Linked DNA regions of Homo sapiens. The protein of the gene in region 1 interacts with the protein of each later gene in a pairwise test. Each region holds a gene or a part of one and is shown on either strand. Other genes may lie near its edges.

Region 1 (7,035 bases):
GCCTCAGCCTCCCGAGTAGCTAGGACTACGGGCATGCGCCACCACAACTGGCTAATTTTTTTTTTTTTTGTATTTTTCGTAGAGATAGGGTTTCACCATGTTGGCCAGGCTGGTCTCAAATTCCTGACCTCAGGTGATCCACCCACCTCAGCCCCCCAGAGTGCTGGGATTATAGGCATGTGCCACCGTGCCCGGCCCAACTTTCACTTTTTAAATGTAGCCTGTGATTAATAACAAACCTAATGTCAGCAAAATAAATGTCAATGGTGACAGTAATGTAACTCTCTACTTTACCTTGCAGATTAGATTTTTAAAATCTTGTTCCATATCTACTACTTTATATGCTGTTGGCCTATAAACCAGTTTTAAAGATTGCCATTACAGCTCACAAAACAGTTTACATGGAATCACATTATTATACTCATACAATATGTATTTATAAGTGGCATTTGTTTGAATGTAACAACTAATAACAAACAGTAATATTATTTATAGCTACCATTTATCAATCATCTACTAAGCGGCATCATTGTGATGGATGCTCTATATCATGATCTCCATTCCTCACAATAATTTACAATATAAGTTTTCACTACATTATATAATGAGGAAACTGAGGCTCAGAGATGCTAAGTGACTACTCTAAGGCCACATAAAAACTAAGCAGCAGAACAGGAATTTGAAGCTGGGCCCATATGGCTACAAAACCCAAGCTCCTTCTAGCACACTGTTGCAATGAAGAATAAGAAAATGCTTTCATCTTACCCATAGTCATCTATCAGGTGAGAGCCAAGTACCACAACATCAAGTTCAAAGAACTCAGGTTCGGTTTTAATGCCAAACATGATCGGGGCAAGTTTAGAATAATCTGCACGGTTACAAGTAGCAACACAAACCCGCAGCTTTCGGTTATTTCCATTCTTCTCCATGATTTGCTTGTTTCGTTTTGAGAGGTTCTTAAAATAGAGTTCCTGAAATTGCCAAAATAAAAACTTTATAATCAGAATAACTCCTAGATATAACTAAACTTTAAACTTCTCTAAATCAGAAATAGAAATTTTCAGTTTCAAGTCCTTAACCACTATTTAGTACAGTGATTCTTAATCTTTTTTTGCACCTCCACTTATGTGTGACTCTCCCATTGGTATATCCAGAGTTAAGAAACTCCAAGGCTGGGAGTGGTGGCTTACGCCTGTAATCCCAGCACTTTGGGAGGCCGAGGTGGGCAGATCACGAGGTCAGGAGATCAAGACCATCCTGGCTAACGTGGTGAAACCCCGTCTCTACTAAAAAATACAAAAAAAAAAATTAGCTGGGCGTGGTGGCGGGTACCTGTAGTCCCAGCTACTCGGGAGGTTGAGGCAGAAGAATGGCGTGAACCCAGGAGGCGGAGCTTGCAGTGAGCTGAGATCGCACCACCACACTCCAGCCTGGGTGACAGAGCGAGACTCCATCTCAAAAAAAAAAAAAGAAGAAGAAACTCCAGCAAACTAACTGTAACACCACCCCATCCTCTCACACTCAAGAAAACACACTGGAATGCCATTAAGAAGGAGTGATATAAATCAGCTCTTGTTTAAAAGGTGAGGAAATATCAGCTCTTTATTATTAAAAATTACTTGCCATAACTCACAGATGAGCCCAACATAGTAGGTTGTTGCAAAATCAGTTGTTGAGAACCACTGATCTAGTTCAACTCCATCACTTTATAGAAAGGGAAACACAGGTCTTGAGAGGGAAAATTACTGCCCCAACATTCCAGATCATGTCTCATAAGGAACACAGGCTATTCACTCTCACACTATACACTTCCTAAATACAAGGTATTGTGATTAATGCTGGGCAGGAGAAAGATGAGTAAGATAAAAACCTGACCTTCAAGCCCTCATTAGTACCTACACACCAGTGCCAACAAAACTGACAACTCCAAATGCCTATCAGATATCTCCTGCTGTATGTCCTATAAACACCTTAAAGTCAGTGTCCCAAACTGAACTCATTTTCTTTTCGGAAGCTGTTCCTCCTCAATTGTTCTCTGAGTTATGCAATTTCATTCATCCAAATGCCTTCAAATCCTTGTCTTTTCTGTTCTTCACCCCATATCTCCAAAATGCTGTCAATTCCACCCCCTAAATATCTTTCAAATCTATCTCCTCCTCTTCATCCATACAAGGACTTCCCCTAGTCCAGTCCCTCATTTTAGGTCTGGACGATCTTAACAGCTGTCAAGTGGTTTGCCTGTCTCCTATAAACTTTCTTACTTATTTATTTAGAGACAAAGTCTCACTCTGTCGCCCAGGTTGGAGTGCAGTGGCACGAGCTTGGCTCACTACTACCTCCGCCTCCCAGATTCAAGCAATTCTCCTGCCTCAGCCTCCCGAGTAGCTGGGATTATAGGTGCCCACCACCATGCCCAGCTAATTTTTGTATTTTTAGTAGAGATGGGGTTTTGCCATGTTGGCCAGGCTGGTCTTGAACTCCTGGCCTCAAGTGATCCACCCACCTCGGCCTCCCAAAGTGCTGGGATTACAGGCAAGAGCCATTGCGCCCGGCCTCCTACAAACTTTCAAAGTGATCTTCCTTTCCACCATCTCTTCCCTGCCTAAAATTACCCTTCTCTGTGCCAAAGTGCCAGCCATACCAAACTGCCTCCAGTTCAACTAGTGAATCTCCGTATATCTATACCTTTATAGATGCCACCTACTTTTTCCTAAAACTTCCTTTCCTCCTTGCTGGTCTTCTACTCATCCTTCAAAACTCCATCTAAGTGTCATCCTTTCTGGAAAGGCTTCACACAAACCTCAGGTCCTCCTCCCCCACGTTTCTCAGTTGCTGCCTCGCTCTGAGCGTTATGGCCCTCCCATTCACAGATATACTGTTGCTCAGCTCCACTGCTCGCTCATCCCTCCCTGCCATGCTATACCCTCCATTCAAAAAGTAAAATCAGGGGCAAGGAATAAGAGATTTGTTTTATGGAATTTTTTAAAAAGTTTTTACATTTTTGGAGATGGGATCTTGCTATGTTGCCCAAGCTAGAGTGCAGTAGCTATTCACAAGCACGATCATAGCTCATTGCAGCCTGGAACTCCTGGGCTCAAGCAACCCCCCCACCTCAGCCTCCTAAGTAGCTGGAACTACAGGCATACACCACTGAGCCAGACTTGGAACATGTTAAACTTCTCTAAATCAACATAAAATTTCACCTCATGGACTCTGATCTCAATGTTCATGTTTCAGTAAGTGTATCAATATTTAGAACTTGTAATCAGGAATCCAGAGACACTTCAGTAAGGATTCCAATTCTAGGGGTGCCATCCTTTAGATGAGGGTAAACTCTGAAATTCACTGGAAATTCCATCAGTAGCCCTCTGCTGTTGGTACCTCAACACTCTCTTAGGCTAAAATTCTGTGACCATGCAAACGGTCCCATCATTAGGTCCACTCTGAATTTATAATCCCCAGTAAAAGCTAATTTCACCCAATGGCAAACACTTACAATATAACGAAACGGGCATTCCACCAAGAGAGTTATATTCAGAAGACCCAAGCACTATCTGATCTTTTTTTTTTTTTTTTTGAGACAGAGTCTTGCTCTGCCACCCAGGCTGGAGTGCAGTGGTGCAATCTCGGCTCACTGCGACCTCCGCCTCCTGGGTTCAAGCAATTCTCCTGCCTCAGCCTCCCGAGTAGCTGGGATTACATGCATGTGCCACCATGCTGGGCTAATTTTTTCTATTTTTAGTAGACATGGGGTTTCACCATGCTAGCCAGACTGGTCTCGAACTCCTGACCTCATGATCCACCCGCCTCGGCCTCCCAAAGTGCTGGGATTACAGGCATGAGCCACCGCACGTGGCCGCACTATCTAATCTTTAAAGAGACAAAAATATTCTTCCAAAAATGGTTGTCGTAAGTGTTCTTGTATATAATCCTTCTTCCAGTGATCAAATTTGAGCTGAAAAAATTGTTGGTAATATTTAATTTGCTGAGGCAAAACAAATCATTCATGGTTTGTCAATTTGTATTTATTTTACAAAGAACAGTAAATGTTCCATCTGGCAGTACTAAAATGCTTATTTACCAGGTTACTCAAAGGTTATTCTACCTAAACTGAGAGCAAGCTGGCCATATAAATAAATGGTGAAAAATACAACAATGTTACCTAGAAACCTAAAAAACCTTAAAAAGTCAAAGCTTTTTCAAGGAAAGAAGTTAAATCTTAAAAATAAAATTAAGGTAAAATGCCTTTTTAAGGGGAGGTTTTAAAAAATAATTTTAATTAACTAAATTTTTGATCAGGTAGTATATTCACATGGTTTAAAATTGAAAAGTCACAAGAGGTTAAGTAGCAATAAGTCTTTTCATCTGTGTTCCCCAGCTAGCTAGTTCTTTTCCCTGGAAGCAGTTACTGGTTTCCTATCTGTCCTTCCATGGATAAACTATGATAATATAAATAAATATATGGCTCACGCCTGTAATCCCAACACTTTGGGAGGCCGAGCTGGGTGGATCACGAGAGGTCAGGAATTCAAGAACAGCCTGGCCAACATGGTGAAACCCCATCTCTACTAAACATACAAAAAAAATTAGCCAGGTGTTGTGGCACACACCTATAGTCCCAGCTACTTGGGAGGCTGAGGCAGGAGAATCACTTGAACACATGAGGCGGAGCTTGCGGTGAGCCAAGATGGTGCCACTGCACTCCAACCTGGGCAACAGAATAAGTCTCTATCTAAATATATATATATATGATGTGTATATATATGATGTATGTATGTGTATACATACACACATACACAACGTATATTACAAAATTGGTAACATATTCTATAAACTGTTGGGGCAAAGCTTACTTTTTTTTTTTTTTAAAATACAGTCTCCCTCTGTTGCCCAGGCTAGAGTGCAGTGACATGACCTTGGCTCACTGCAACTTCCACCTCCCCAGTTCAAGAGATTCTTGTGCCTCAGCCTCCTGAGTAGCTGGGATTACAGGTGCCCGCCACCACACCCACCAAATTTTTTTGTATTTTTAGCAGAGACGGGGTTTCACCATGTTGTCCAGGCCAGTCTCAAACTCCTGACCTCACATGATCCACCCACCTCGGCCTCCCAACGTGCTAGGATTACAGGCATGAGCCACCGCGCCCAGCCACAAATCTTACTTTTTAAAATGCTTTTAATTATGACTCAAATGGTAGAATGAGAACATTTAAAGATATTGGAAATATCAAATCTAAAAGTGCAAAATTTTGGAAATTGCTGGCCATCAGCTTTTCAAATATACAAAGAGTTATAAGAGCCCTAAAATTTAGCAAAAACATTCAACTTTGGCTGGGCACAGTGGCTCATGCCTGTAATCCCAGCACTTTGGGAGGCTGAGGTGGGCGGATCACCTGAGGTCACGAGTTGGAGACCAGCCTGGCCAACATGGTGAAACCCCATCTCTACTAAAAATACAAAACTTAGCAGGGTGTGGTGGCGTGCACCTGCAATCCCAGCACTGAGGAGGCTGTGGCAGGAGAGTTGCTTGAACCTGGGAGGCGGAGGTTGCAGTGAGCCGAGATTACACCATTGCATTCCAGCCTGGGAGACTGATCGAGACTCCATTTCAAAAAAAGAAAAAGAAAAATTAGCCAGGCATGGTAGCGCGTGCCTGTAATCCCAGCTGCTTGGGAGGCTGAGGCACAAGAATCGCTTGAACCCAGGAGGCAGAGGTTGCAGTGAGCTGAGATCGCACCACTGCACTCCAGCCTGGGCAAAAGAGTGAGACTTTGTCTCAAAATAAATAAATAAATAAATAAATAAAAACAAGAAATCTGGCTGGACATGGTGGCTCATGCCTGTAATCCCAGCACTTTGGGAGGCTGAGGCAAGAAGGACTCCTTGAAGTCAGGAGTTCAAGACCAGCCTGGGCAACATAGCAAGACTCCTGTCTCTACAAACAAATTTTTTTTAATTAGCTGAGTGTGGTTGTGCACACCTGCGGTCCTAGCTATTTGGGAGGCTGAGGCAGGAAGATCACTTTAGCCCAGGAGTTTGAGGCTGTAGTGAGTTATGATCATGCCACCGCACTCCAGCCTGAAAGACTGAGCAAGACCCTATCTTTAAAAAAATTAAAATTTAAATCCAGCCTGGGGCAAGTAAATTTCCTTTTGTAAGGAGGCAATCACTTTTCATCAGTACTTACAATGGACAGTCTTGAGTTGAGAGAATGCAAAAAGCTGCTTTCAAGAATTGAGTTTCGGCCGGGCGCAGTGGCTCACGCCTGTAATCCCAGCACTTTGGGAGGACGAGGCGGGCGGATCACCTGAGGCCAGGAGTTCAAGACCTGCCTGGCTAACATGGCAAAACCCCATCTCTACTAAAAATACAAAAATTAGCCAGGCATGGTGGCAGGCGCCTGTAATCCCAGCTACTGGGGAGGCTGAGGCAGGAGAATCACTTGAACCCGGGAGGCGGAGGTTGCAGTGAGCCGAGATCCTGCCACTGCACTCCAGCCTGGGCAACAAGAGTGAGATTCCATCTCAAAAAAAAATAATTGGGTTTCTCAGATTGCCAGTGAGTTCAAGATGAAGGCAAGCTTGTCTATAAACCTGGCCTTAGGTAACATTGTTCTATTTTTCAGTTTACTCATATGGCCAGCTTGCTCTCAGTTTAGGTAGAATAACCTTTGAGTAACTGGTAAGTACGAGGCATTTTAGTACTGCCAGATGGAACATTTACTGTTCTTTGTAAAATAAATATAAATTGACAAACCATGAATGATTTGTTTTGCCTCACAGTATTTTTCTTTTTTCTTGAGACGGAGTGTCACTCTGTTGCCCAGGCTGGAGTGCAGTGGTGCGACCTCAGCTCACTGTAACCTCCACCTCCCGGGTTCAATCAATTCTCCTGCCTCAGCCTCCCAAGTAGCTGGGATTACAGGCGCACGCCACCATGCCTGGCTAATTTTTGTATTTTTTTAGTTGAGACGCGGTTTCAACTAAACCAGGCTGTTCTCGAACTCTTGACCTCAAGTCATCTGCCTTGGCCTTG
Region 2 (5,851 bases), on another chromosome or scaffold:
TGAGAATCCCAGAAACTCCTGCTTAAAGAGGAGGAAAATATCTAAAGCCCAACCAAAATTAGTGTGGAGATCCCACAATCTGGGCATTGCAAAGCCCATTACCAGAAGCAATGACAATGCACATCCTAGACAATGCTTTACTAATAAATAGCAATATTAACAGCACATTTGGACAGAAGAATAAAGAGTTTATTAAAATAAAATCTTTTTCACTTCCTATCTCTTTTGGAAAGAAATACAAAAACTATAAATTATATCTATAATGCAGTTTGGATCACTCATTGATCCAATGGCTTCAGATATCTGAATTATAAAATCCATGCCTTCCCTTCCCAGAGTTATAGATCCAGATTGATCCAGTTATAGATTATTCATTGATCCAAACTGCAGTTTGACAGAACTAACATACAACCCAGTTTTTGAGGGCTGGAAAGTAAGGAAGACCTGGTGATCAATAATATTAGAATACTTCTCAAAGGAAGAAATTAACAGATGACCTTACTAAAGAATATGCATTTCTCAAATGAGTTTTACCAGTCACCACATTAGTCAGTAGAAACCAGATCTACAGAATGGCTGATAACAAGATGAATGGAACCACCTTCTAGGTGGAAAATAGATTGGATGGCAGAATCTGGATCTATAACTCTGGGAAGGGGAGGTATGGATTCTATAATTCAGATATCTGAAGCCATTGGATCCACAGCCCAGTGAGGAGCAGCTCCTGGATCCACAGCTCAGGGAGCAGCAGCTATTGGATCCAAAACCCCGAGACCCAACATGCATAGTCAGGCAAGAATTGCAGAGCATGTGAGTCCTGGGGTAGTAGCAGGAGGTGTGGCAGGGGCTGGACTCAACACACAATGTCTGACAGCTGTTGGGCCTCCAGCAGGTCTCCTGACAGCCCCTATAGAGAGAGGAACCCAGCTGGCAGGTGCTGGGAGAGCAGAGGTCAGTGCTGTAGACCAGGTTGCTGGGGTAGGAAGAGCCACAGGAGGAGCCTGGGTAGTGCAAGTAACCCCCGTGGGAGCAGGAGGAGAAGTTTCTAGAGCAACAGTTGTAGGACATGTTGACGGGAAGATGTGAGTTCAGCTGAGTGTACCTGGGAAGATTCTGAGTTTTAACGTGGCATCCTGGACAGTGTCATTTATATCCTCTCAGCAATAGGTGTGGTGCACAGCAGAGTCATCCCTCACATTTTTGTGCTCCCTCATTTACATATGTGTAGCTCAGCAATCTTGCCTGTAATTGCATTTGAATACTTTTCCACATGTTGTATTTATGCGTGCTATAATTTTGGTGTTATAGCACAAAGCCAATGAACTGCACTTATGCCAGAAATGCTATGACTGTTTCGTATTAATATTTATTTTATTATGTCTAGGAAAGCACCTCCTTTTCCTCCTAGCATAATTTTCATGTGTCTTGTTATTGGCTGTTATGGGCAATAATTTTCCCTAAACAGTGAGAAATGAGATAAAGTTACATGTCTTTTTTGTCAATGGATTAGAGACACAACTTTGGCCTTAATGAGAAACCTGCTGAAAACTAAACCTACATGTCACCATCCTTTCTCATTCCACAAAAGTTTCCTTCATCTATTATGTACTGTTACTCACTGTGTCTCACATCCAGTGTAGAGGGAAAAGTATGAGCCAAGACAAATTGAATAACATTGATGCCTATGACCAGAAGGAAACCTGGACAATTATTTGGAGACATGGTGACAGCAAGGGATGGAACTGAGACAATCACAAATGAAAAACAATTCTGGGGCCTTATGAAGAGAATTAAAGTGTTAAATAAACACACACCATTGAAATGACAGAAAAAAATAAATGAATTTTAGATTCAATGCATCTAATATGAGGCCCATGGTCCTAAGAGATTCTCATTCATATGTGTGGCAGCCTGGAGAATTCTCATCTCGGATCTTAAATTACAGGAGGCTTAAATAACCAGTGGTCCTACCTGCTGTGTTCTAAAAGTTAACACTGCATTTTTGGGGAAGGCTTGCTTTCTCTGGGCTGCTCCCAAGCAAAGACTGAGCACAGTGGGATATAGGAATTCCTGGAAGACAATTGACGGCCAGCTTTGACTCAGGGTTTCCTCAACGGCCTTAAAGAACTACTGTCTCCTGCATAGGTCTCAAGCACTTCTTTCTCTTTCTCCTTCACTTGGGCCAGACCTATGTCCAAATCTTACAACTCTCCCAGCCTCTCTCAGGGGAGACTCTGGAAAGAGAAAAAATGCAGAAAATCTGTAAATATTTAATCTTGTTTATACTTTTTAAAAAGTGATACTGTTTGGATTTGTGTCCCTGCCCAAATCTCAGGCCAAATTGTAATCCCCAGTGTTGGGGAAGGCCTGGTGGGAGATGATTGGATCATGGGGGTGGATTTCCCCCTTGCTGTTCTCGTGCTAGTGAGTTAGCTCTCATGAGATCTGGTTGTTTAAAAATGTGTAGCACTTCCCCCTTCACTCTTTCTACTGCTTCCCTTGTAGGACTGCCTGCTTCTCCTTCATTTTCTGCCATGATTGTAAGTTCCCTGAAGCCTCCCCAGCCGTGCTTCGTGTACAGCCTGCAGAACTGTGAGTCAATTAAACCTCTTCTCTTTATAAATTACCCAGTCACAGGTAGTAGTTTATAGCAGTGTGAGAATAGACTAATACAAAAAGTAAACCAATTTTTTGAAGGATAGCAAAAAATTTAAACTGAACATTTTATCTTGAGTATGCCAATCAGGGTAAACAAAAAAAAAATTATTTCAGTTGTTCAATGATTTAGAGAAACAATAAACAAACTTTTGAGTTTAGTTTTGGAGCTTATGTTCAGACTGTCTCCAGGTAATATCTGCTAAAACTCATTTTTTCAGCCATCTCCACCTTAGTTAGACTAGATCTACACCATTCTCCTATTATTTCACGTGTGAGTTGATGTCTTTTATCAAGATTGGTAAATTCCCAACTGTACTCTCTTCAAATATTGCTTCTGCCCCATCCTCTCATCTTTCTTTTGCTTAGATTCCAATTATAAGCAAGGTACACTTTTTAACTACATTACATATGGCTTATACTCTTTTTTCTATTTTCAATCTTTATATAGAAGTATTGGCTTTTGCTTATTGAGGTTGTAACCTGGATGGTTAGTGAAAGCAAGATTTTCCAGCATGTTAGTGACAAGTTGCCTGGTTATTTTGAAAAGAGAAGCAGGTAGGTGCCAAACGTTGTAATTTTCAACTATGGATGAGATTCTGTTGAAAACATATCTCAAATATCCAAAGCCATTATTCATAGCCCAGTGAAGAGAATCATCTGTCAAAAGATCAGAAGCCTTTTGATGTATATCCCTGAGCCATATATTTTATGTGAAAGATCTCAATTTTTAATTGTTGATAAATAATTCAGTCAAAAAAAGAAACAACAATGATGAGGCTCCATATTAAACAGAACAAATAATATGATCTCCAAGATGAAGTGAGTCCAAAGTTGTGGCATTTACAAGTTCTTCTTAAACTTCTATCAAATTAATGTGGACAAAGTTTTAGAGATTTAGAGGCAGAGAGAAGGGAAGAACACCTCTTTTCACAATAACTGGTTCAGAGAAGGATTTTTGAATAAGGAGCCTGGATTAACTGAAGACAAATTCACTAAATCCCTTAGTTTTGCCTGAATAAATTCATGCTCTCCATTTAACTCATAAGTTTTGTATTCAAGATTATTTTAAAGAGTTACATTTGAAACAAAAGAAAATGGGGAAGGAATAGTTTCCAAACCTACTTACTAAGGTACAAGGTTAGGGGAAATCAACTGCCATTGAAAAATAGAAAGTAACTCACTGAATAGATATTTGAATTGGCCATATTTGCTTCTTTCTTCATTCTTCCTTCTGGAAGGCCTATATTAAGTTACTTTTCAATATTGCCATACATTTTAATTGAGAAAATTTAATCGAGAAAATGTCTAACATTATTGTTGTAAGTTTATTATATTTTATTATAAAATAAAATGTCATCAACCATGACAGTACACTTTCTTTGGTCCTGAATATAATTTAACTACTTGTATTTCAACATAGAATATTTTGTGAATGAACTTACAAAGTGGCTATCCTCAAAGAATACGACAAAGCTGTCCAATTTTTATTTTTCAACATGGAATCTATAATTCAGCAGAGGCAAACAAACACATGAACAAAACATAAAATATAACAAGTAAAAAAAAGAAAAAAGATAAAATCAAACTTAAGCACAGAAAAAAGAAAGAAAAATAGAGGGAAAGAAAGTCAGAGGAAGAGAGAGAGAAAATAAGAGAGAAACATTCATATACCATGCAGAGGAAAAGAGGACTGGGGAACAAAGAAACTTCACATTTTCACAGGAAAATGTAGGATGGTACCTGGTTCTACAAGTGGCAAAAAGACACTGAAAGCCAGTAATATGGAAAGCTAGAGCCATTCTAAGAAGGTAGAAGTCCTGTATAATTACAAAAGTAGATGATAAATATATCAAAGTTCATAAGATTTGCTAATTTTGAAAATTTTTGCTCATAAAGACATTGAGACAAGACACATGACAGCTGGAATGCAATAGGAAAAAAAATTCTGAAATTCCTGAGCTTTCTCTTTGTTTCTCTTTCACTTGTTTCCTCCCTTCAGCAGACAAGCATTCGGGCTCTTTGGCTGAAGAGACATGACCTCAAATTGATCTTCTCTGTGACTGTGTTTCAATCGAGCTTCTTTTTGTTATCTCGTCTTTAAATAAATGGCAAGGTTTCTTTCAATTTCTAGCCATTTCTTTCTATCTCTTTGCTTTGCCTGTTCTTGATCTTTCTTCACTGGATATGAGACAGACTTTATAACTGTAGTACTTAATGTATTAATTTACTCTTACCGCCCTAAAAAATCACCACAAAGTAATTTTGGAGTATAGCAATCAATGGTGACAAGATGGATCATTTTCACAAAGGTTCTCATCCAGGTGGAAATTGCACCAGAAAGAAACTAACGTTATCTCATTCCCCACTCTTAAGAGGAAAACATCTACTAGCAAAGCCAGATGTGAATACACAGGAAAAGAGGCAGTTAGCATGTGCCAAAGAAATAGGAAGAGCTTTCCTTGTCATGATGAGCTAGACATTAATATAAAACAGTCATAGCATTTCTGACATAAGTACAGTTCATTGGCTTTGTGCTATAACACGAAAATTATAGCACCCATAAATACAATACATGGAAAACTATTCAAATGCAATTACAGACAAGATTACGCAGTTACACATATGTAAATGAGGGATCACAAATATGTAAAGGATGACCCTGTTGGGCACCACACCTATTGCTGAGAGGATATAAATGCCCTTGTCCAGGATGCGACATTAAAACTCAGAATCTTCTTAGGTACACTCAGCTGAACTCCCATCTCTCATCAGCATGTCCTACAACTGCTGCTCTAGAAACTTCTCCTCCCGCTCCTTTGGGGGCTACCTGTACTACCCAGGCTCCTACCCCAGCAGCCTGGTCTACAGCACTGCCCTCTGCTCTCCCAGCACCTGCCAGCTGCGTTCCTCTCTCTACAGGGACTGTCAGAAGACCTGCTGGGAGCCCGCCAGCTGCCAGAAATCCTGCTACCGCCCCAGGACCTCCATCCTCTGCTGTCCCTGTCAGACGACTTGCTCTGGATCTCTAGGCTTTCGGTCCAGCAGCTGTCGCTCCCAGGGCTATGGATCTAGGTGCTGCTACTCGCTGGGAAATGGATCCAGTGGCTTCAGATTCCTGAAATATGGAGGCTGTGGTTTTCCTTCCCTGAGTTACGGATCCAGATTCTGCTACCCAAACTACTTGGCTTCTGGA

The links. Proteins that work in one complex are often made in the same cells at the same time.
Region 2: the proteins of GNE (region 1) and KRTAP13-3 interact in binary tests that used the Homo sapiens proteins (3 or more experiments, as listed by UniProt).

Annotation. Positions count from the first base shown.
Region 1 is NC_000009.12:36,248,427-36,255,461, forward strand, and holds part of GNE (bifunctional UDP-N-acetylglucosamine 2-epimerase/N-acetylmannosamine kinase), read right to left. Parts: intron 972-7,035; coding exon of another isoform or gene 930-971; coding exon 766-929; intron 1-765. UniProt on the Homo sapiens protein: Bifunctional enzyme that possesses both UDP-N-acetylglucosamine 2-epimerase and N-acetylmannosamine kinase activities, and serves as the initiator of the biosynthetic pathway leading to the production of N-acetylneuraminic acid (NeuAc), a critical precursor in the synthesis of sialic acids.
Region 2 is NC_000021.9:30,424,845-30,430,695, forward strand, and holds KRTAP13-3 (keratin-associated protein 13-3), read right to left. Parts: upstream 1,083-5,851; 5' UTR 1,069-1,082; coding exon 550-1,068; 3' UTR 536-549; downstream 1-535. Other genes in the region: KRTAP13-4 (keratin-associated protein 13-4), read left to right, coding at 5,432-5,851. UniProt on the Homo sapiens protein: In the hair cortex, hair keratin intermediate filaments are embedded in an interfilamentous matrix, consisting of hair keratin-associated proteins (KRTAP), which are essential for the formation of a rigid and resistant hair shaft through their extensive disulfide bond cross-linking with abundant cysteine residues of hair keratins.